Linked DNA regions of Homo sapiens. The protein of the gene in region 2 purifies or fractionates together with the protein of the main gene of each other region. This does not show direct contact. Each region holds a gene or a part of one and is shown on either strand. Other genes may lie near its edges.

The links. Proteins that work in one complex are often made in the same cells at the same time.
Region 1: the proteins of AURKA (region 2) and CALCOCO1 purify together in Homo sapiens (affinity purification with mass spectrometry; 5 studies listed by BioGRID and IntAct, with this or other methods). This does not show direct contact.
Region 3: the proteins of AURKA (region 2) and MTMR3 purify together in Homo sapiens (affinity purification with mass spectrometry; 5 studies listed by BioGRID and IntAct, with this or other methods). This does not show direct contact.

Annotation. Positions count from the first base shown.
Region 1 is NC_000012.12:53,724,154-53,732,071, reverse strand, and holds the start of CALCOCO1 (calcium-binding and coiled-coil domain-containing protein 1), read left to right. Parts: upstream 1-4,619; 5' UTR 4,620-4,668; exon of another isoform or gene 4,669-5,872; intron 5,873-6,312; exon of another isoform or gene 6,313-6,382; intron 6,383-6,805; 5' UTR 6,806-6,829; coding exon 6,830-6,985; intron 6,986-7,324; coding exon 7,325-7,427; intron 7,428-7,918. UniProt on the Homo sapiens protein: Functions as a coactivator for aryl hydrocarbon and nuclear receptors (NR). Recruited to promoters through its contact with the N-terminal basic helix-loop-helix-Per-Arnt-Sim (PAS) domain of transcription factors or coactivators, such as NCOA2.
Region 2 is NC_000020.11:56,374,816-56,382,924, forward strand, and holds part of AURKA (aurora kinase A), read right to left. Parts: intron 6,757-8,109; coding exon 6,618-6,756; intron 1-6,617. UniProt on the Homo sapiens protein: Mitotic serine/threonine kinase that contributes to the regulation of cell cycle progression.
Region 3 is NC_000022.11:29,885,364-29,893,472, forward strand, and holds part of MTMR3 (phosphatidylinositol-3,5-bisphosphate 3-phosphatase MTMR3), read left to right. Parts: intron 1-8,109. UniProt on the Homo sapiens protein: Lipid phosphatase that specifically dephosphorylates the D-3 position of phosphatidylinositol 3-phosphate and phosphatidylinositol 3,5-bisphosphate, generating phosphatidylinositol and phosphatidylinositol 5-phosphate.

The DNA of each region.
Region 1 (7,918 bases), on a different chromosome or scaffold from region 2:
CACATTCTCGTCGCCCAGGCTGGAGTACAGTTGGTGCATTCATGGCTCACTGCAGCTTTGATTTCCCAGGCTCAGGTGATTCTCCCACCACAGCCTCCCGAGTAGCTGGGGCTACAGGTGTGCACCACCACACCTGGTTAATTTTTGTATTTTTAGTAGAAACAGGTTTTGCCATGTTGCCCAGGCTGGTCTCTAATTCCTGTGCTCAAGCAATCTGCCGGCGTTGGCCTCCCAAAATGCTGAGATTATAGACATGAGCCACCGCGCCCAGCCAGTAAGTTACTCTTAAAGTCTCAGTCTCTTCATCTGTAAAATCTGGATAGCACCTTGCACAGTTATTGTGATGATTCAATGGGTGAAAGAGCACCTCTCACATAGTAGGCACTCAACTAGTGGTAGCTCCTCAAAGCATTCCCAGAGTCCAGGGCCAGCTTCCATTAAACATTTATTATGTGGTGGGCACCGAACTACATGAGGCAATACCAGAATTAGGACTTTTGCAAAAGAGAAAAGAGACAACATTTCAGGGAAATGGATTCACTTTTCAGCAGCTCCTTCCCAAGTTCTACGGAGCCCTTCGACAATCATGGCAGTCATCTCCCTTCCCCAGACGAGTTAAACTATATTCTTAAAAAAAAAACAACAGTCCCCAAATCTCCCACTCTCACTCAGAAATATTCTTTGATCCCAATAACTGTAACTTCCACCTGTCTTCACAGTATTATTCCCCTTTTTCAAAAAATCTTCAGTGACTAACTTCCCATTCCTGATGGGAGTGAAGTCCAAACCTTTGTACATGATGTATTGATGAGGAAAACAGTAGCTACTATAAAAAATAAACCCATTTTAGCAGTGTAACAAAATTGAAATTGATTTATTGGTCAAGTGAAATCTGAAACACATGATCCTGATTAGTGGTCCGCTCTCTGCCACGTGATGATTCAGGGAACCAGCTTCCTTCCATCCTGTGGCTCCACTGTCTTTAACATGTGGCCTTCAGGGTCACTGTGCCTAAGGTCATCTTCATCAAGCTAGACAGGAAAAAAAATAGGAAGGAACTTTTTTGGAGGGTTTTATGGGCCAGACTTGAAAATGGAACACATTAATTAAAGGAGAAGCTTAAAAATGTGGTATAGCTAGGCCGGGCGCGGTGACTCTTGCCTGTAATCCCAGCACTTTGGGAGGCCGAAGCGGGCGGATCACGAGGTCAGGAGATCGAGACCATCCTGGCTAACACGGTGAAACCCCGTCTCTACCAAAAATACAAAAAAATTAGCCAGGTGTGGTGACGGGCACCTGTAGTCTCAGCTACTTGGGAGGCTGAGGCAGGAGAACGGCATGAACCTGGGAGGCGGAGCTTGCAGTGAGCTGAGATGGCGCCACTGCACTCCAGCCTGGGCGACAGAGCAAGACTCCGTCTCAAAAAAATAAAAAAATAAAAAATAAAAATAAAAAAATAAAAAAATGTGGTACAGCTGTGTGTCCAAGAAAAAGAAAGAAACAGGTTCTGATAAACACATAGGCTCTGGCTCACTTGACATTCAAAACTCTCTATACTCTGGCTTAAGTCTGTCTTTCCAATTTTATCTTCCATTATCCAATTATCCAACTGTAGCTTCTTTTTGTTGTTGTTGTTGTTGTTGTTGTTGTTTGTTTTGTTTTTTGAGACAGAGTGTCACTCTGTTGCCCAGGCTGGAGAACAGTGGTACCATTCTGGCTCACTGCAACCTCTGCCTCCTGGGTTCAAGCGATTCTCCTGCCTCAGCCTCCCAAGTAGCCGGGATTACAGGCACGCGCCACCATACCTGGCTAATTTTTGTATTTTTGGTAGAGATGGGGTTTCACCAGTTGGCCAGGCTGGTCTTGAACTCCTGACCTCAAGTGATCCGCCCACCTTGGCCTCCCAAAGTGCTGGGATTACAGGAGCAAGCTACCACGCCTGGCCTCCAACTGTAGCTTTTATTCAGCTTTGCTGCAATCACAACCTACCCCAAAATCTAAGCGACTCACAACAACCAGTGCTGGCTTCTGATTTATGTATATGCAGGTTGTGGGTAAGCAGTAGCTCAGCTCCACAGGTCTTCTCATTCCCAGGCCCAGGCAGAAGGAGCAACTCTCATGTGGATTATTCCCATTCTAGTGGCAGAGAAGAACAAGAAAGTGGAAACTCATGTGTTCAAACATGGCATGAGTCACATCTGTTCACATCCCATCAGCCAAATTATGAAACATGACAAAGCCCAAAGTCAATGACATGAGACATCTATTCCTTCTACAGGAGATACTGCAAGTCACATGGCAGTGGGCAGGAATGAGAGAGGAAATAATTTCAAACAATTAGTCCATCCACTACAACTGCCATTTTCCATCTGGAGTACATGGCAGACATTACTACCCAGCACTCTTTCCTCAGAATCCTCAACACAACATTTCAGGCAGACATTACCAATAATCTGAGTTTGCCTAAATACATAAATAAAGGTTGAAATTGATGTGCTATTATGTGACTCTAGGCTCATTATCCATTCCCACCTCCAAATCTTTGCTTTGGCCTAGAAGAAGCTTACCCTCCCCAGTCCCCATCTTGCCAAACTATCCAAATTTAATCTATCCTTCAAATACTTGAATATTTGAAAGTAATGACTATAATTAAAATAATGAATTACATTTATTATTTTAAAATAATGAATTACATATATTATTTTAAAATAATGAATATTTACTATTCATTCTTTCAATAAAAGTAACTGAATACCTAGCATAGTACCTGCCACATATTTGTTGAATGAATCTGTTTCACATTACTTTGTGCCTTGCACTGAGCACATAAATGCTCAGTGAACATTTGTCTCCTGTTAATGAACCAGCACTGTTCCTTAGAACAATGGGAGTTAGTATCACATGCCAGAGTTTCTGGACTGGGAGTATGGTGACTGCTTGTGCTTAAATCTTGATTCTGCCACTCACTAGCTGGATGACTCCAGGCAAGTCATTAATTGTGCCTCAATCTCATCATGTGTAAAATGGGGATAATAACAAGGCGTATTACATAAGCCTGTTGTATTAAATGGGAAAATTCTTAGCATAGTTTGAACAGATCATAAGCACCCAAGAAATGGAAGTTGTTACCATTTTTAGCTCCGAGACTGTTTTCTCGTAGACCTTTATTTTGGGCGGAAGACAAGAGCCAAGAACTCTTGAGACTTGGGTCCTTGAACAGACCTCACTCTTAACCCACTCCAGACCTTGAGCTACCTCCTCATCCAGAAACTGGTTCCCTAACTCATAAATCCTGACTAATGACACAGACACATCACCTTAATGTTTGTGCAGCCCAGTAACTAATTTTTAAGTGCCTGGAGATCTTCAGATGAAAGACACTGAGGGCAGACACCGCATTCAGTCATAAAAGCAAAACACTACCAAAAAACTTGGAAAAGGCAGAAGCTCCATAACTTAGTGCAGTAGAGAATTAAAGCAGGCACCTAGGAAGAGGAAATCAATCCTTAAGACTGTAATCCTTTAATGCAGAGCCAGAGAAAGAGGTAATTCTGAATGCCTCCGACTACAGGGATGGAGAATAGCGAGAGGGGGGACAGGATGCCCAAGTCTATAACGTGACTTGGGGTGTGGGAGACGTGTCAATCTTTCACCTCTCCTAAATAAAAACCGGAACGTCAACATGTATTGTTATCCTAATTAATTTAAGCCACTTAAAAGGCTTGGGCAAACAGGCCCCATAAGTGGCTTGTTTGTGAATTGTGACAGGTCCTGAATTATGCCAAGCTCCCTTTTCAATTTCATTCTTCTCATTCCACCGCTCCTACCACCACCTCAGTCAATTGTATCCTCTTCCTAGACCCAGAAGCCACTCTGGGGGAGCCCAGTCCAGATGTGGATATGGTCAGGCCCCTTAGCACTGAAATCCTCAAGTTGGAAAAAAATGGTCAGCTGTGCAGAAGACATCATTCTTACAAGGTCTGTCCCTGAGATTGAAGTAAAGAAGAAACTGCTATACCCCAGCTATCAGTTTCCCATCCCCAAAATGGTGGGTAGCTGTGGTGTAGTGGCAAGAATATATGACGTGGAATTAGCCAAGGCTAATGCAGTTCTACATTTCATAGCTTTGACACTTCACACCGCCTCCTTAACCGTACTTCACTTTCTACATCTATAAAGCGTGCATAACGCTTAACGCCTATCTCACAGGTGGGTGCGAAAAGTACAGGACGGGACGCAACAGAAACCGCTCTGCCCACCGTTAAAGCGTTATATGGAAGGCTTTAGAGCCGTAAATCCTCCCCAGCCCCCAACAACGCACGTTACAAACCAGCAGCCACCCCTAATGCAGCCGGCCCCCTCCTAAGGGATCATGGGCCTTGAAGTCCTTTGCTGGCCACACCCTCGTTTTCTGTCATAGGAGTGAGAACTACGCCTCCCAGGATGCCGCGGTGAGGCCGCCGTCACGGACGCCCTCTTCCCCGCCCTCCTTGCGCGCAGCCTTCTGGGATGTATAGTCCTAGATCCGAGCACGCAGCGGCAAAAGGGCGCAGAAGAACCACAAACCCCAGAAGCCCTCGCGCCCACTCTTCTCCCTCCCCTCCAGAAGTCGGAGTGCTGTTTTTGTTGTTGGTGAAAGGTGAGGGGAACAGCTGATCCGTCTGTTGGGTAAGAAACTTGGCCTAATTGGGGGCGATCTTATGGGAGGGGAGGGTCACCCCACTTTCCAGTTTGGGGAAGGATAACGTAAGGGAACTGTCGAAGGGGAATACAGGAGCGTTTGGGTTGTAACCCTTTCCGTACTGGAGAAGCCACCCCCGCTGTTTGGGGAGTTCTTGGTTTCAAGGGGACTCTGATTGGGGGTGGGGGGCGCCCCCTCGTCGTCCTCTCCTTCTTCTCAATGCGTCTCTATAAAGCTGATCCCTTCAAGGGAGCTGAAATCTGCTTATTCGCTCCCAGGCAAGACGTGTCCCCTACACGTCTTCCCTCTCTCCCCTACGCAAATCCAAAGGCCTTTACGACGCTGAATCCCTGGGGAGGAAGGGGGACCTTCCAAGGTGTAGAATGTCAAGGAACTCTAGAGCCCTACAGAGTAGGGGATGGGACACCCGCTCTCCGCCCCATCATGTGAACATCTGAATCAGGCTACACACCTACATCTTAGGTGCCCAAAACTTTCTTTCGGACATGAAGAACGTTTACAGCTGTTACGGATTTTCTTTGTGGGGTGTATTTTAGGGTTCTCCAGGTATATCTTTGGGGACAATTTACCCCCACCCTTAGAAAGCTGGAAGAATTGCATTTGGAGAAAACATGGATTAGTTTCAACCAGGAATTTTTCAGGGAGATGAACATTAAAAAAAACTTTTTGTTCTACCTATTTGGGGGACAGAAGTTGCTCCTTTTTGTGTTGCTGGCTCACCTTTATCCACTGAGTTTCTGTTTTCTTTTAAAGTTCCTGTCCCCTGGACTTCAGCCTGGTGTGGGTTTGTGATGTTTGGGGGCGTGCATATGACTAGTGACAATGGCTGGTTGGACATGTCAGCTGTGAGTGACACAGGAAATAGATTAGTGGGCTGGAAAGGAGTGATGAATAAGAGGGCCATCTCACAGCCCTGGACTGAGGAGTTCTTTTGATCGTTATTATTGTTATCTGTCCTCACCCCACCCTCATATTTTCCAATTAACTCTCCCCAGCTAACTTGGAACACCCCTTCCTCTCAACCCCATCCTGTAGTGTGTCTCCAGCTACCAATACAAACAGATGGAAGGATGGAGGCTGAGGGGAGCAGAGAGAAAATGAGGAGAGAAATACTAAAGTGAAACCAGTAGGTTTCTAGTCCTGCTGCAGGCACAGTCTGGAGAGAAGAATGTTAGGTTCTTTTTGAACTATCTCCCCTTTCCTCAACGTTAAATATACATTTCCACTTCTTGGGGCCCCTTACTTCCCACTTTCTAGTCTGTTCCCTGCCCTGGGGTGGGGCTTTCCTGGCTCCAGGCCCCCACATTCCATCTCCCCACCCCCACCACGTTCCTGCTAAGCGCCTCACTCCACCCTTGAAGTTGCCGCCTCCAGAATTCTTGACTTCCTGGAATAATAAGTCAAGGGACAGAACCTGTCTTTCCTTATATCCTCCCCTTCCCTTTGTCTCTTGGATGCCAGCAGAAGCTTTCTGCTTCCCTAGAATTCATGGGGGTAGGCAGCTCAGAGAGATGAAAAGAGCTGAGAGCTCAGGAGCCTAAGGATTTGGGCTCAGTTCCCCTCGACCCCCAGCCATATTCTAGCTCTGAAAACTCAACCATTCCTTTCAGAGATTAGTTGCTGCTTTCTGATGTCATAACTCATTCCTGGATACAGCTGGGTCAACAAGCTTAGGAGTAGGTAAGGACACCTCTCTCAATGAGAGGGCCCCACACCTCAGTTGGATTTTGTATTCAAGAGCCAGGATGTGTGGGAGATGGGATGGAGAAATGGAGGCTGTCGACCAAGTCGCAGTATCCCAGGCTCTGTCCCCGTCAGTGTCCTTTTGGGAGCAAAATTAGAGAAGTCTGAACCCTCAGAAGGGTCTATGAGCCAGAGCGGGTACAGTGTGAGACAGGATGGGGACGGACTTGGAAGGCCAGACCTACGTCCTAGAGACTAAGAGTGATACCTCAAAAATGTCCCGTAACCCTCAGGGACTAGAAACCAGGTATGCCTTATCTCCAGGTGTAGTGGCAGGGGCTGTGAGTGTGTGGTGCTGGAGCTGTGGGGGGAAGGAGGTGGACTGGAAAGACTTTAGGCTATCAACCCTTTCTTTCATAGGAGGACAGATATCTCAAGGCCAGGATGGAAGAATCACCACTAAGCCGGGCACCATCCCGTGGTGGAGTCAACTTTCTCAATGTAGCCCGGACCTACATCCCCAACACCAAGGTGGAATGTCACTACACCCTTCCCCCAGGCACCATGCCCAGTGCCAGTGACTGGATTGGCATCTTCAAGGTATCTCTGGAACCCCTTTTGGCTTAGGTTTATGGGCTGTGAGTTGGTTGGAATAAGGGGAATGATTGGGCTCTTGGATTCTCAACCTCAGGTTGATAGAGAAGAAGAGAGAAAGATGTCACAGATGACAGAGGCCGCCTGTATAACCAAAGCACATATTTTCTCCATCTTAGCCTTGTTCTTTACTGACACATTAGTGTCCCTCCACTTTCCCTTTCTCTTGTCATTGTTGCCACTGTAGCTCCATCCTGCCCCCCTTATTCAACCCCTCAGCCCTTTCTTCCATCCATAGAAGGTAGTTCCATGACCATACCTTTCTCCAACCTTGGGCTTTCACAGGTGGAGGCTGCCTGTGTTCGGGATTACCACACATTTGTGTGGTCTTCCGTGCCTGAAAGTACAACTGATGGTTCCCCCATTCACACCAGTGTCCAGTTCCAAGGTACAAGGGAAGATGGAAAATTGGGAGAGAGGAGCCAAGGGAGTGGAGGTTTGAAAGAAGGTAGTGGGCTCAGAAACATTAAAAGTTAGGCACAAAGGACAAGGAAAAATAAACGAAAATAAATATAATGAGAATATATCCAACAGCGCTCAGCGGATAGAGAATCACGGGATTATCGCAGAATCAGGGACATAGAAACAGAAGGAACTTCAGAGGGCATCTAGTCCCCTGTCCTACCCAAAGAAGGAAAAATGGGGGAGTAAGGAAGAGGGAAAGGTAGAATTATGTGGTGAGAAGAGGGAAAGACCTGGGTTCAAATCTCACCTCTAACACTTACAAGCTGTTTGGCCTTGGGCAAATTACATAACCTCCCTGTGTCGGTTATCTTAACAGTAAAAGGGGATGCCTGGCTTATAGGGACATTACGAGGATTTAAAATGAAAGCTGCAGGCCAGGCGTGGTGGTGCATGCCTGTAGTCCCAGCTACTCAC
Region 2 (8,109 bases):
GACAGGTGGATCACCTGAAGTCAGGAGTTCGAGACCGGCCTGACCAACATGGTGAAACCCTGTCTTTACTAAAAATACAAAAATTAGCCAAGTGTAGTGGTGCATGCCTATAATCGCAGCTACTCGGGAGGCTGAGGCAGGAGAATTGGTTGAACCCAGGAGGTAGAGGTTGCAGTGAGCCGAGATCATGCCATTGCACTCCAGCCTGGGCAACAAGAGTAAAATTCCGTCTCAAAAAAAAGCAAGAAAAAGAAAAGTTTTACAGTCCCTATCGCTAAGATTTAGCAAACAAGTCCAGTATGTATGTATTTACTTATTTATTTTTAAGAGACAGGGTCTCACTCTGTCACCCAGCCTGGATTGCTATGGCATGATCATACCTCACTGCAGCCTTGAACTCCTGGCCGTAAGCAATCCTCCCACCTCAGCCTCCTTCCGAGTAGCTGGGACTACAGGTGTGTGCCACCATGCCCAGCTAATTTTTAATCTTTCTTTTTTTTTTTTTTTTTTTTGTAGAGACAGTCTCCCCATGTTGCCTACGCTGGTCGCTAATTCCTGACCTCAAGTGATCCTCCCACCTTGGCCTCTCCAAGTGCTGAGATTACAAGCGTGAGCTACCATGCCTGGCCCAGAATTTATTTTAACATACAGATAACTGTTTGAATATTGAAAAAATATATTTAGCTCTGCCTAAAGTTTGAGAAGAGTTTGCTTTCTACAGCAATTTCTAGACAGGATTGAACATTATTTTACATCAAAAAGGTTTACTAAACAGATGAGTAAAAACCAAATGTCACTGTCAGAATAAACACTTTTCATTCTTTCAGCCCAAAACCGGAGATCAAAATTCAGACCACAATAAACTGAAGGCAAATACAAAGAAAGCTGCTCTTCTGACCACCAACTTTGAGTTGCTGATGCTTTAATTGCACACATTAAAGTTTGAGAGGGCAATGGATTTCACTCCTCAAATCACTTCCAGACAAGAAGCTATTAGTTTCATGATAGCCCTCTGGCACTGCCACTTCCTCCACACCTCACATGTTGTTAGATTGCAGATATGGATAGGTCACTGACATGTCACTACAATTAGTTTTATTTGAATTCATCTGAAAAGGAAAACAGGTACATGTGTATTCATTCTAACTGCTAAGGAATCTAGACAGAAATGATCTTTCATTTTCTTTCAAACAGCTATCTGCTTACACCAAAACTCCATCTAGATTGAAGCCTTGGGTGTAAGGAGAGAAAACAGAGAAGTAGTATAATGTGTAATTTTGTAGTGTTGGTATAAGGTGAATCTTTTAAAGTAGGATATCAATATCAGAAACTGAAGAAAAAGATTAACTGACCTGAAACAACAAACTACAACCCACCATAAGCAAGATTACCAGGAAAAAAACCAAGGGTAAAATGTGAGTACCTGAGGTAGAGTCACTACCATTAATGAGCATAGATTTACTTATTGATCTGTAAGAGAAAGTTGGCCCAAAAGATGAACTCAAAGAAATATTAATTGCCAATTAAATAAGAAGCTGATTTGTTTAGCTAATATTTAAAAAAGCAAATTAGAGATCTATTTCTACTTAGGAGAAGCACAAACATTTAAGATTAAGTCTTTAAAACAGCATGTCATTGTTGCAGAGACAAGACCAAAGAGCCATTTGTCCATAGTAGCATGATTTCATCAGATACTGAAAGTAAAATTACTTGAATTTAAATGCCATTTACATCAATGCCAAAAAGAGAACTAATGTCCACACTACCCGGAGATCTCCACCAAGAAACAGAAAAAAATCAAAGTAACCACCATTCAACATGCTTTATCAAGCTGCCAATCCAATAAGAAACGGCCCAAACTAAGACTCTTCAACTTCTTAAAACAAGTAATTTTAATCACATAAAAAAGGAGAAGCAAAAAAGCACAATCATGAAAGAAAAAACTGACACATTTGGACTTTTATTAAAAATACAGCCTGGGAGGCCGGGTACAGTGGCTCATGCCTGCAATCCCAACACTCTGGGAGGCCGAGGTGGGCAAATCACCTGAGGTCAGGAGTTCAAGACCAGACTGGCCAACATGATGAAACCCTGTCTCTACTAAAAATACAAAAATTAGCTGGGCGTGGTGGCTCATGCCTGTAATCCCAGCTACTCAGGAGGCTGAGGCAGGAGAACTGCTTGAACACAGGAGGTAGAAGTTGCAGTGAGCTGAGAACCAAGATCACGTCACTGCCCTCCAGCCTGGGTGACAAAGCAAGAATGCCTCAAAAAAAACAACCTGGGCAACATGATGAGACCGTGTCTATACAAAAAATACAAAAATTAGCTGGGCGTGGTGGTACCCACCTGTAGTCTCACCTACTCAGGAGGATCACTTGAGCTCAACAGGCAGAGGCTGCAGTGAGCAGAGATCGCACCACTGCACCCCAGCCTGGCTGACAGAGTGAAACCCTTTCTCAAAAAAATAAATAAAAAACAGCCTTGTGAAAGACACAGATAAGAGAACAAAAATACAAGGCACGGATTGGGAGAAAATATTTGCAAAACATGTGTGACAGATGACCTGCATCCAAAATATACAAAGAACTCTTAAAACTCAAAACTCAAAAAAAAAAAGAGCAAAAGATTTCAACAGGTGCCTCAAAGACGATACACAGATGGCAAATAAACACATAAAAAGATGTTCAAGGCCGGGCGCAGTGGCTCACGCCTATAATCCCAGCACTTTGGGAGGCCGAGGCAGGTGGATCACAAGGTCAAGAGATCAAGACCATCCTGGCCAACATGGCGAAACCCCATCTCTACTAAAAGTACAAAAATTAGCTGGGCATGGTGGCACGTGCCTGTAGTCCCAGCTACTCAGGAGTCTGAGGCAGGAGAATCGCTTGAACCCAAGAGGCGGAGGTTGCAGTGAGCCAAAATCGCACCACTACACTCTAGCCTGGTGACAGAGCGAGACTCCGTCTCAAAAAAAAAAAGAGACGTTCAACATCAAATGTCATTAGGAAACTAGAAATCAAAACAATGAGATACCACCACATGCCGATTAGAATAACTAAAATGCAAAACAAGAGGCCAGGTATAGTGGCTCACTCCTGTAATCCCAATATTTTGGGAGGCATGAATTACTTGAGACCAGGATTTCGAAACCGACCTGGGCAACAAGGCAAAACCTTGTCTCTACAAAAAAATACAAAAATTAGCCAGGCACGAGAGCACATGCCTGTAGTCCTAGCTACTTGGGAGGCTGAGATGGGAGGATTGCTTGAGCCAGGGAGTTTGAGGTGGGTGATCATGCCATTGCACTCCAGTCTGGGCGACAGTGAGACCTTGTCTCAAAACAAACAAACAAAAATCCAAAACACTGACATCAAATGTTGGCAACTATGAGAAGCAAGAGGACCTCAATTCATTGGTTCCGATACCACATTACCGTTGTATAATGGTATCAGAATTGTTAACCAGCTGCCCCACGGAAACCAACTTTATCAATTAGAGTGCTTATGTGCACTTCCTTTGGCCTTTGTCTTATAGACTCCACTCATCTCCAAAGCTGCTTGGATCAACACTTTACCCTCATGCCCTTTAGTAAGGTGATTTCCTACATTTGTAATGCAATGTAAAATATAATGTAAAAATCACTTTGGAAGACTGACAGTTCCTCACAAAGCAAAATATAGTCTTACCGTATGAGCTGGCAATAGCACTCCTATATATGTGCCCAACTAATTTGAAGACTTGTTTCGCAAAAACCTGCATGCAAATGTTGACAGCCAAAACATGATAACTGCCAAAAACCAGAAGCAGCCAAGATACCCTTCAGTAGACGAATAAACTGAGGTACTTCCATATAATGAAATAATGGAATATGATTTTGTGATAAACAGAAATGAACAAGCTCTCATGCCTCCAAAAATACACAGATGAATCTTCAATGCATATTGCTAAGTGGAAGAAGCCCACCTAAAAAAGCTACATACTGTTATGATTCCAATTACATGATATTCTGGAAAAGGCAATAGAGACAGTAAACAGATCAGTGGTTGCCAGAGATGGAAGGGTTGGAAGGGATGAGTAGTTGAGACACAGGATTTTTTTTTTCTTAAGAGCAGCGAAACTATTCTCTATATCATAATGGTGGATACATGGCATTGTGTATTTGTCGAAATTCATAGAACTTTACAGCAAACACACAAAAATCAATCTCAGGATATGAAAATGTAAATGATTCCATCCTGGGCATGCAGATTGTGACAAAAAAATCTCATTGCATTACAAATGTAGGAAACCACCTTACTAAAGGGCATGAGGGTAAAGTGTTGATCCAAGCAGCTTTGGAAATGAGTGGAATCTATAAGACAAAGGCCAAAGGAAGTGCACATAAGCACTCTAATTGATAAAGTTGGTTCCCACGTGGCAGCTGGTTAACAATTCTGATACCATTATACATGTATATTGGAATTGAATAAGTAAAAGGATGGTGGGCGGTGAAATCCAGGTTTCACACTTTTGGAGTGGGAGTTTACAGGTAAACAGGAGGAAGTTAGAATGAAACGTGGTAATGGATTCAAGTTGAAGACATCAGTATGAATTCATGGTATGCTTAATGAAGAGATAGATGGATAAATCTATACACAGATTACTATCCACATATATTCCCTTGCTGTGTCAGCTGAAAGCCTAAAAGTAGTGACACCATAGTAGCAATGAGTACACCAAGTGCCCAGAGCTTGGTTTCTAATAACATTCTCCAAGAAAAGGAAACAGGGCTCCTTGGAGAAGTGGTTCGATTCTAGGACTGGAGCAGGAAATATACACGATGAGGCCTGAGCATCTTGTATCAGAAAGTAAGGAAGTACAAGGCCAGGCGTGGTGGCTCACACCTGTAATCCTAGCACTTTGGGAGGCTGAGGCGGGCAGATTACCTGAGGTCAGGGGTTAGAGACCAGCCTGGCCAACATGGCAAAACCCCATCTCTACTAAAAATACAAAAATGAGCCGGGTGTGGTGGTGCATGCCTGTTAATCCTAGCTACTCAGGAGGCTGAGGCAGGAGAATCGCTTGAACCCAGGAGGTGAAGGCTGCAGTGAGCCAAGATTATGCCACTGCACTCCAGCCTGGGCGACAGAGTGAGATTCCATCTCAAAAAAAGAAAAAAAAAAAAAGGAAGTGTAAAAACAAACCAAAAAAAAACCACACACACGCAAGACAAAACTGCAATGATTTTCCCAGGAACCTGGTAAAACAAAAAGAGCAGGCCGGGCACGGTGGCTCATGCCTGTAATCCCAGCACTTTGGGAGGCTGAGGTGGGTGGATCACAAGGTCAGGAGTTCAAGACCAGCCTGGCCAATATGGTGAAACCCCGTCTCTACTAAAAATACAAAAATTAGCCAGGTGTGGTGGTGGGTGCCTGTACTTCCAGCTACTTGGGAGGCTGAGGCAGAAGAATCGCTTCAACCTGGGAGGCTGAGGTTGCAGTGAGCCAAGATAGCGCCACTGCACTCCAGCCTGGGCGACAGAGTGAGACTCCGTCTCAAAAAGAAAAAAAAAAAAAAAGAAAGAAAAAAAGTTCCCAGTGGCCAAAGTTGCAATGATCTGAACCACAAAATAAAGTATTGCATTATAGCTCAAGAGATAAAATAAATACCCAGGAGTCTACATCTTTAAATAAATAAATGATTAAATAAATAAGGGAGAACAGCCTTATCTCTGGCACAGAATTCCAGATAATTTATGGCAATACTCCATCCACTCTCTACTCCTTAAGTGTGGGCTATTCATAGTAACTTCCTTTGAAGAAATACAGCACGGAAAGGGGAAAAAATAGTAACTTTACAGTGGAGAAACCAGACAAACACTCTCTGAGTCAGAAGATCAAGCTGACATCCACAGTTAAAAGTCATAAGAGTTTACATCCCTGGTATGTGATAAGAATGCACTTTACCTCTGATCTCCCTCTCAAAAACCCATAAGCCCAATTTAATCATGAGAAAAACTAAGAAAATCTGAATAAAATGTGGACTTGAGTTAATAGTTATATATCAATATTGGTTCATTGAATGTGACAAATGTGCCATATTAATGCAAGATGTTAGTAGGAGAATTAGTAGGAAATTCAGTGTGGGGTATATGGGAACTCTCTGTACTGCCTTCACAATTTCTGTAAATCTAAAACTATCCTAGCCAGGTACAATGGTGTGCACCTGTAGTCCCAGCTACTCGGGAGGCTGAGGTGGAGAATCACTTGAGTCCAGCCTGGGCAACATAACAAGACCCTGTCCCTTTAAAAAAAATAAAATAAAATAAAAATTATTCTAAAATAAAACATCTATTAAAGAAAATGAGGGTGACTATCTATATACATTATATACATTTCCATAGAAAACAGCTGTGCAAACTAGGCACAAAAGCAGATACAACATTCTACCTGGTTCTAGACTTTATCTGTACATATGGTACAACTAAGCTATTTTGATTTTTCCACTTCAAATATTTGATATTAAGCTATCCTTACGTCAAGACAAAACCCACTCTACTATGATGAAAGGTACATTGCTATGGAGGACAGGTATAAAGGAAACACAATTAGCCTGGACAATAAATGAACACTTACAGTAGCAGTTCTCTGCTCATCAAACTTTGAAAGTTTCTGAAGTTCTCTATAAACTGTTCCAAGTGGTGCATATTCCAGAATTAGGTAGACTCTGGTAGCATCATGGAAATAACCATACAGTCTAAGAATATTAGGATGCCTGCAACAAAGGATAAACATTCTAACACTTGGTTTGGAGCTCACAGAAGACTATGTACAAAATGTCAAACAAACTCTTCATGTAAAACCAGTGGTGTTTCACATGAAACCACACTCCAAACCCCACTTTAGAATCTGAAACTATAAACCCACTCCAAGAAAAATACATACACCCACATATCATTTTAAAAGCACTTCACAGTATTAATGGACCTCTGGTTTAGTTAAGACTATTTCCTTCCTTTAGGCACCTTTATTCTTAGGAGGAAAATTCAGCTGAATATTAATTATCTACATATTAAAAAAAGGACATGGCCGGGCACAGTGGCTCACGCCTGTAATCCCAGCACTTTGGGAGGCCGAGGCGGGAGGATCGCGAGGTCAGGAGTTCAAGACCAGCCTGGCCAACATGGTGAAACCTCGTCTCTACTAAAAATACAAAAATTAGCTAGGCTTGTTGGTGCATGCCTGCAATCCTAGCTACTCAGGAGGCTGAGGCAGGAGAATCGCTTTAACCTGGGAGGCAGAGGTTGCAGTGAGCTGAGATTGCGCCACTGCACTCCAGTCTGGGCAACAGAGCGAGACTCCATCTCAAAAAAAAAAAGGAAAAAAAAAAAGGACATGGCATTGCCACAGTAGTTTGACACCCAGACACTGTGACAGATAAAAGCAGTGATCAGTAATGGCAGTAGATGGGTGCTGAGCAGACTGGGCAGGTGCAGACTGTGGCCAGCGGGAAGCAGGCAATGGGAAGCACAGCCCATGTGAGATGCCTGCCCCTCCCAGCCCCAGCCAGGTGTTGCCAGGCAGAGACACACCAGGCCTGATGTGGCCAGACTTGAAGTATTAGCATCTGATTCAAATTTGAAAAACACTGAAAGAAAAAAAGGAAAAACAAAAACCCACCAGCCGTAGTCAACCTGCAGGTAGCTGCTCGCAATTCCTGCATACCTCAGAATAAGGGGTGCCATTCCCCTTCACTGTCCACCAGAAAGACTTGCCCATATAAACTATTCTATTAACAAAACATTAAATCCTCAAGTGATTTTTCCAGGATCAGAGCACTTAAGTGCTCTTTGAAAGATGACAAATTTAATCATTTTTTGTGGTACTATGAAAAGCAGGCCCTCTAAAAAATAAATTTATACTTAAAAAAAAAAAAAGGAATACAATTTTATTTTAACATGCAGAGCATGGGAGAATCACAGGAGAATGCTTATAACCCAGTGCAGTACAGAAGCTTATCTAATCTTTTTCATAGGGGAGGGGGAGGTGAGGAACGGGGCCATGCATTTGAAGGCAGTGCCTCGTAAGAGGGAGTGAAGGGACCTGGGCAGTGGGAGGCTGACATTAC
Region 3 (8,109 bases), on a different chromosome or scaffold from region 2:
ATGAGAAACTTAAAGAGATGCAAATTGAGCATCTCTTAAAATATAATGGATTTATGTAGGGGAAACAGATTTGTTGCCAAAAGTTAATTTGCAAACAAGTTATTAGGAACACACTTGATAAAATTAGATGCTGATTAATTGGAGATATACTGTATCCAGAGATATATTGAAGGATCCAGAGGAAATAAACAGAGAAGGAGAGGGAGTAAGTCGGCTTCTGGCTCATAAAGGGGTCCACTGAAGATGCTTCCCACCATTATGGTTGCTCCTAAACCATCTGACTCAGATTTCTAGTGGAGGGTAGGATGGGTGTGTTAGCAATCATTTGAGACCCGGGTTGTGAACCAGGAAGGGTTACTATGTATTGTGAAAAGTTCTTGAGATTTGCCGCAGGCCATGAGGAGTGGTAAAGTCAGTTTAAAAATCTGCTGTAGTTCTAGTTAACACGTTCACACCTTCTTCAGTAAAGTGGAATGCTGTTACCAAAGGAAGTATTCGTGTTTTAGAGGGGGGTGTGGTGAAGGTTCTTACAAGTTTGGAAGAGGTGGAAGAAAATGTTGTTACAATTGTGTAGAGTAGTGAAGGGCTTTGGTAAATATCCTGTCAAATCATAGAGTAGTATTTTTAGAGTTGCACCCAGCTGTCCATTAGAAGAGCCAGAGGCCTTGTCTGTTTTGTTCCCTGGTGTCCCCAGTATCCAGCGCAGTTATCCGCATATTCTGTGCCCTCAGATATTTTTTAATTAAGTGAATACTATTGATATGGGAAAAAGAACAGTTATGGTGGTTTATAGCAGTGTTAGTTATTAAAAGCTACCTGATATTTTGCAATGGATTAAAGAGCCAATTTTTGATCAAATAGGGCTCTGGGTAGGAAAGAAAATGAAAATGAAGAGCCAGCTTTCAGTGCTTATTGTTTGGAATTTTTGAGATTCCTTTAAGAAATTGTTTTCTAAAGACTGTCATGAACATTATCGAGTCCCCTAGTTTTTGAGTCTTAATGAATCTTAAGTGTTTCAGATGTTAGTTACTTTTTTAAGAGCACAGTAAGTGCAAAGGTAGTATAGAATAGTGGGAAGTTCTGGATTGACAGACATATATTCTGATTCCATCTGTGTCATTTATTGCTGTTGGGAATGTCACTTAACTTCTCTGGGCGTCAGTTTTCTCATATATACAATTAAGGGCCTATAGTCTTTGACCTCAAGTAGTTTCTCTAGCCTGATTCTGCAAATTTTTAATCATTTCTAATTATGTTATTTGGTATTCATCTCATATAGGTAGATGAACTTTTATTATTTAAAAGAAACAAGATTCTGTGTTGGGTTCTGCTTTTAGCTTATGGATTTTAGACATTGTCCAAAAGTGCTTCCGATGTTGAATGTATGTTGCAAGTGTTATGTAGAAAGAACATGCTTATGCTGTTGTAATTGGCTTAGTGTTGAAATCAAATTGGGTTTTACATTGGGAACTTCATAATTTAGTGTGAAGTCATGAGACTTGAGAATGGTTTGGGGGGAGTTTGTGCAATTTATATAGCTAGCTGTTTCTTACCACCTAATTCTGTAATTTTCTATGATGAATATATAGATAAATTTATAATCAGTGTAACATTGATTTAAGTTATAAGATGATATCAGATTCATACTGGATTGAACTAGAACTCCCAGTAACTTTAGAGGCTACCAAATTATTAACATGTCATTGCTATTTTTAATCTTAATTTTGTGATATCAATACTGATATGCTTTCATCTTTGCTTTTGTATCTAGAAACAATATACCTTTTAAGTTCATATTTGTATCAGATATTAAAAATGAAAATTGTAGCATGAAAGTGGGTAGATAGTAAATCTTGGGTTCAAGCCTGGGTTGTTATTCTTCATTACCCATGTTGTTTCTGGCAAGCTACATAACCCCCCTGAGCTCCAGTTCCCTCATTAGTGAAAGGAAGAAGAGCAACTTTTCTACTTTTCTAACAGACTGTGGATCAAACAATAGTGTATATGAAAAGCATTCTAAAAATGTAAGGGGCTGGTATTAGAATCGTATTGTATTAGAATCCTATTTTATGTCTTTGAAGAATTGGCTTGTGGAGCAGTGGTAAACCTAGTCTGTATTGTCAAGTGCAGAATTTACCAATATCACTGATATGGCAACAGAGAAGGTTTCTGCTTCTGTACTCTGGCTGGAGAAACCTTTCAGCACATGTATCCTGTCTGCCAGTCGGAATAGTCACAATGTTGCAGGGACTTCAGAGGAACCTGGGATGTCTCACATTTATGCCAAGGTCTCTACTTGGAATAGACTTGGCTAGATTTCACCCATTTTCTTATGTTGGAGCAGTGGTAGAAGGTGGTAGGAGCAAGGAGTTCAGCACATTCTGTGTAAAGTTCTAAGGCTGTGTTTTTAAGTAGCAGGTGGCAGTGTCATAGGGTAATGAAATCAATGTACTTATTTAAAAAAGCATTTTCAGAAAGAGAATATATCAGTACATTGCATAAAGTAAAAGTAAATATAGACACAGAGGTATTGTCTTGATGCTGATAGCTGCAGATATTCAGAATGATTCTGTTACAACAGATGGTAGCAAGCTTTTCTGATTTCACTTATCTGGGGTCTAAATCTAATTTCTTTAGTAGTTAATACTGTTTTGTTTTGTTTTTTTTTTTGGACACAGAATCTTGCTCTGTTTGCCCAGGCTAGAGTGCAGTGGCACGATCTCGGCTCACTGTAACCTCTGCCTCCCGGGTTCAAGATTTGGGAAACTTTTGTTTCTTTTTAAAAGATATTTTTATGTATGTATACTTGGTTGCCGTGTAAAATGTATTTTTTCTTTTTAAAAATTATAATTTTCATTTTTTGTAGAGACAGGGTTTTGCTACGTTGCCCAGGCTGGTCTTGAACTCCTGGGCTCAAAGGTAGTCCTCCTGCTTTGGCCTCCCAAAGTGCTGGGATTGTAGACATGAGCCACTGTGCCTGGCCTAAAAGGTTGTTTTTTTCTTTTGGGTTGTGATAAAACTTTGTCGTCGTTGTTTGGGGACATAGTACTTGGGCAATGTGGATAGAATGACTGTCTATAAAATAGTAAGGCATGAAACTAACGAAAACAAAAAGAAAATTGTGAAGGTGGGTTACCTTAAAGCTATTCTGTTAGTGGTGAAATACCTCATAGCTATGTTCTGAACTGTTGATTTAATGAACAAAGCACATGAACTTATGCTGTAATAATATTCTTAAGTACTCTTTTCCCTTAACATGGAGTATGGAGTACTTTAACCACAGAGGTATTGTCTTGATGCTGATAACTACGGATATTCAGAATGATTCTGTTATGACAGATGATAGCAAGCTTTTCTGATTTCACTTACCTGGGGTCGAAATCTAATTTCTTTATTAGTTAATACTTTTTTTTTTTTTTTTTTTTTTTGAGACAGAGTCTCGCTCTGTTGCCCAGGCTGGAGTGCAGTGGCGCGATCTCGGCTCACTGTAACCTCCGCCTCCTGGGTTCAAGTGATTCTCCCTGCCTCAGCCTCCCCAAGTCGTTAATACTTTTATAACTTAGTTGCAGAAGAGAAATATAAATTTATTTAGTTTTCAGAATTATTCATAGATTTATAATCTGGCAAAATATAAGGAAATTATAAGTATATTGATAAATCATGACATAACTGGCAAGAATTGGTATGAAGACAAGATGGTTATAACTTGAAATAGGGTTGTTATTTATTCTATGCCTATCATTTTTCCATGAGATAAACCAAATATTTAATTGTTTAGACTGATTCCACAAATGACATGGGAAGGCAGAGTGTTTATAAAGAGTTTTGGAAGTGATATAGGACACTATAATTTGGAGTTTTAACTTAATCTTATTTTAAATTTCAAAATGAAATTATTTCTGGTTATGAAAGCTACGGAACTTTTTTTTTTTTTTTTTTTTTTAGATGGCGTCTCGCTCTGTCACTCAGGCTGGAATGCAGTGGTGTGATCTCAGCTCACTGCAACCTCAGCCTCCTGGTTCTAGCAATTCTGCTGCCTTAGCCTCCTGAGTAGTTGGGATTACAGGTACCTGCCACCACGCCTGGCTAATTTTTGTATTTTTAGTAGAGACAGGGTTTCACCATGTTGGCCAGGCTGGTTTCGAACTCCTGACCTCAGGTGATCCGCCTGCCTTCGCCTCCCAAAGTGGTGGGATTACAGGCGTGAGCCACTGCACCTGGCCCAGAACGGTTTTAGTGTTTTTTAAAAAAAAAAGTAGAGATGACCTGTAATCCCATCTGGATGTAATGTTTGGTATTTTTGTTTTTTTTCTTATACATATCTATTGAAATAATTTTAAAAAGAACAACTTTCCCTGTAAAATTGATATTCCCTTAATGAGCATTTAGTGTTTATAATATGGATGCATCATAGTTTATAGCAGTTCTGTGTTATTAATGGATATTGTCAATTTTTCTCTTAAAGCAGTACTGTGATGAACTCGTTTGGACATTGAATTGCATTGAATTGTTCTATTATTTTATTATTTCCTTAGGATAAATTCTTTTTTTTTTTTTTTTTGAGACAGAGTCTCACTTTGTCGCCCAGGCTGGAGTGCGGTGGTGCGATCTAGGCTCACTGCAGCCTCTGCCTCCCGGGTTCAAGCGATTCTCCTGCCTCAGCCTCCTGAGTAGCTGGGCGTACAGGCGCATGCCACCACGCCCGGCTAATTTTTTGTATTTTTAGTAGAGACAGGGTTTCACCATGTTGACCAGGATGGCCTCGATCTCCTGACCTCATGATCCACCTGCCTCCGCCTCCCAAAGTGCTGGGATTACAGGCCTGAGCCACTGCACCTGGCCCAGGATAAATTCTTAAAAGTGGGTTTATTACCTGGGCGTGGTGGCTCATGCATGTAATCCCAGCACTTTGGGAGGCCAAGGCGGGTGGATCACCTGAGGTCAGCAGTTCAAGACCAGGCTGGCCAACATGGTAAAACCCCGTCTCTACTAAAAATACAAAAATCAGTCGGGTGTGGTGGCGGGCCTCTGTAATTCCAGCTACTTGGAAGGCTGAGGCACAGAGAATCACTTGAACCCAGGAGGCAGAGGTTGCAGTGAGCCGAGATTAAGCTGCTGCACTCTAGCCTGGGCCACAGAGTGAGACTCAGTCTCAAAAGAAAAAAAAAAGTGGGATTATTAGGTCAAACGGTACGTGTGTTTTAAATTTAGATATACTCAAGATGCCCTTTAGATAGGATGTCTATTTCAAATTCCCATCAACAGTGTATTAGTATTCAATTCCATATATTCTTGCTAGTGATTTGTCATCTTTAGCTTGTTGGGAGTTTAAAGTAGTTTGAAACAGTTTTCTGTTTCTTTTTCAGCATCAGGACTTACTTCCATAGCTTAACTCTTCGGAGGGAGCTGATAAAAATGAAAGATCAGTGACAAGGGAGTGGTGTAGACCAGTGGTCTTCAAACTTTTTGGTTGCTTACCCCATCACTAAAAAATTTTGAGCATTAAGCAGGTGCGGTACATGGTTCTGTGGTCCCATCTACTTAGTTGGCTGAGGCAGGAGAATGTTTGAGGCCAGGAGTTCAAGGCTAAAGTTCACTGTGATTGTGCTTATGAATATAGCCGCTGTACTCTAGCCTGGACAACATAGCGAGACCATCTCTTTAGAAAAAAAAAAAAGATGAGATGGGAAGAATGAAGTCAGAAAAAAAAAATTGATAGGACTTCGTGTTGTTGCTTTGAGAAAAGAGAAAAAGAAAAAAATTGAGCATCAATTCTTAATCCTTAGATATTTGATTTACAAATAATATATGTATAGTAACTGATTATTGTGGACTTTATAAAATACGAACAAAAAATCAACAAGGATGATAATTAAAAATAAAGTTCAGATATTTTCCTTTTTTACCCTGGGGTGTCTTGGTTACTCCTGGAGGTATGCGTGTGCGTGTGTGTATGTATGTATGTGTGTGTGTGTATATATTTAATATATATGTGTATACATTGTATATGTGTATACATAATATATAATATATATGTGTATATATAACATATATATATGTGTATGTATAATATGTATATATTTTTTAGACAAGAGTCTTTTTCTGTTACCGAGGCTGGTGTGCAGTGGTGCGATCTTGGCTCACTGCAACCTCTGCCTCCTGGGTTGAAGTGATTCTTGCGCCTCAGCCACTTGAGTAGTTGGGATTACAGGTGTGTGCCACCATGCCTGGCTAATTTTTGTATTTTTTACTAGAGACGGGATTTTGCCATGTTGGCCAGGCTGATCTGGAACTCCTGGCTTCAAGTGAATTGCCTGCCTTGGCCTCCCAAAGTGCTGGTATTACAGGTGTGAGCCACCGTGCATATGTTATACTTGCTTTGGATACTACTGCTTTAGACTCTTAAGGTTTAATATTGAGCATTTATAGATGCTTGTTTTTGGGCATTTCACTAGTTTTGCTGGTCCAGTTTAGTTGGATCATGAATACCTTTAAAATGTCCCATGCTAGGCTGGGCGCGGTGGCTCAGGCCTGTAATCCTAGCACTTTGGGAGGCCAAGGCAGACGGATCATGAGGTCAGGAGATCGAGACCATCCTGGCTAACACCGTGAAACCCGCCTCTACTAAAAATACAAAAAATTAGCCCAGCGTGGTGGCACGCGCCTGTAGTTCCAGCTACTTGGGAGGCTGAGGAAGGATAATCTCTTGAACCCAGGAGGCGGAGGTTGCAGTGAGCTGAGATTGTGCCACTGCACTGCAGCCTGGGTGACAGAGCGAGACTCCATCTCAAAAAAAAAAAAATGTCCCATGCTCTTGAGAGTCGTATCTGCAATAAGGGTAAAAATAAATTTAAAACATCAGTTCAATACTTTTTGCATTGTTGAGGTGGCTGAATTTGAAAAGGACAAATAGTAGGATAAGAAGCAATGTAAGTACTCTATTTCTTCTAGATATGAAGAATTAATATTTTGTAGAACATATTTTAAAAAATTATGTTTTTTGGAAAGCCGTTTGGCTGTAATATGTATCTCCCTGTTTTTTAAGAGTTAGGTCCTAGAGACTGAGTGAAGGTATGAATAATTGCTACTTGCTCTCCTTTGCTTTCAAAGTACCACAATTAACCTGTCACTAACTCTGTTTGGATTAGCCTGAGCCTATAACAAACTTTCCATGATGATTCTTAGATTAAAAGATAATTTTTTTCTTGAGTTAGAATAAGTTGCTTTTGATCTGTGGCTGCCTGCCCCCCAACCCCTATAAATTATGACATCAGGAAACAAGGCTTTTTGTATTAGAAAAAAATGGGGAAATTAATTTCAGTTATTTCATGTGGGTCATTGGCAGAGAAAGATAATACTAAAATCTTAGAGACTGTGAAAAGAGATTATATTAAGCAACTTGAGTGATTACTTTTTTGCCAGTTAAAAGAAATGAGATAATTTATATTGAAGATGATTGCTATATACAGTGCTTTGCACAAAAGGCCACATATCTCTTTTTACCTTAGGTAACATGATGTATAAGCTACTTTCACATATATCTTCTTAGGTCATCACAAGGATTTGAGATCATCATTTAATCAGGACTGTTGTGACTTGCTTGAGACCACATGCCTAGTGTTTGACATCATATTTCAAGAGGTAGACTGAAAGTTCTGCAGAAATAGGGACTGGTGGCTGTTCTCTCCCTTACTCCCTAGCAGTTAATACATTGCCTGGTACAGAGTAAGCTGTCAATATTTGTGGACTATTTAAACTCCTGCATATTTATTTACACATGTAAATAAGTTATAGCATTGTAAAACCAACAGGTATATTTTCCGTAGTGAGATTGTTCCTTCATCTTATGTGCACAGAAAATATTTTCGTGGAAGAGGTCTTGAATTTTAGATCAACCTTTCACATATCCCTTTACTTTCTCTTAAGATACTTTCATGGTGACAAAAAAAATACTCTTAATGTCATTCCTTTCACTGTGTGTGTAACTCCTGTGGCAAGACTGTATATTTGTATGTATGTATTTGTTTATTTAGTAGGCTGCTATTTATAAAGGAAACATACTCATTAGTTGGTCTTTGCGTACATAATGGTTCCCAAAACATGGACTCC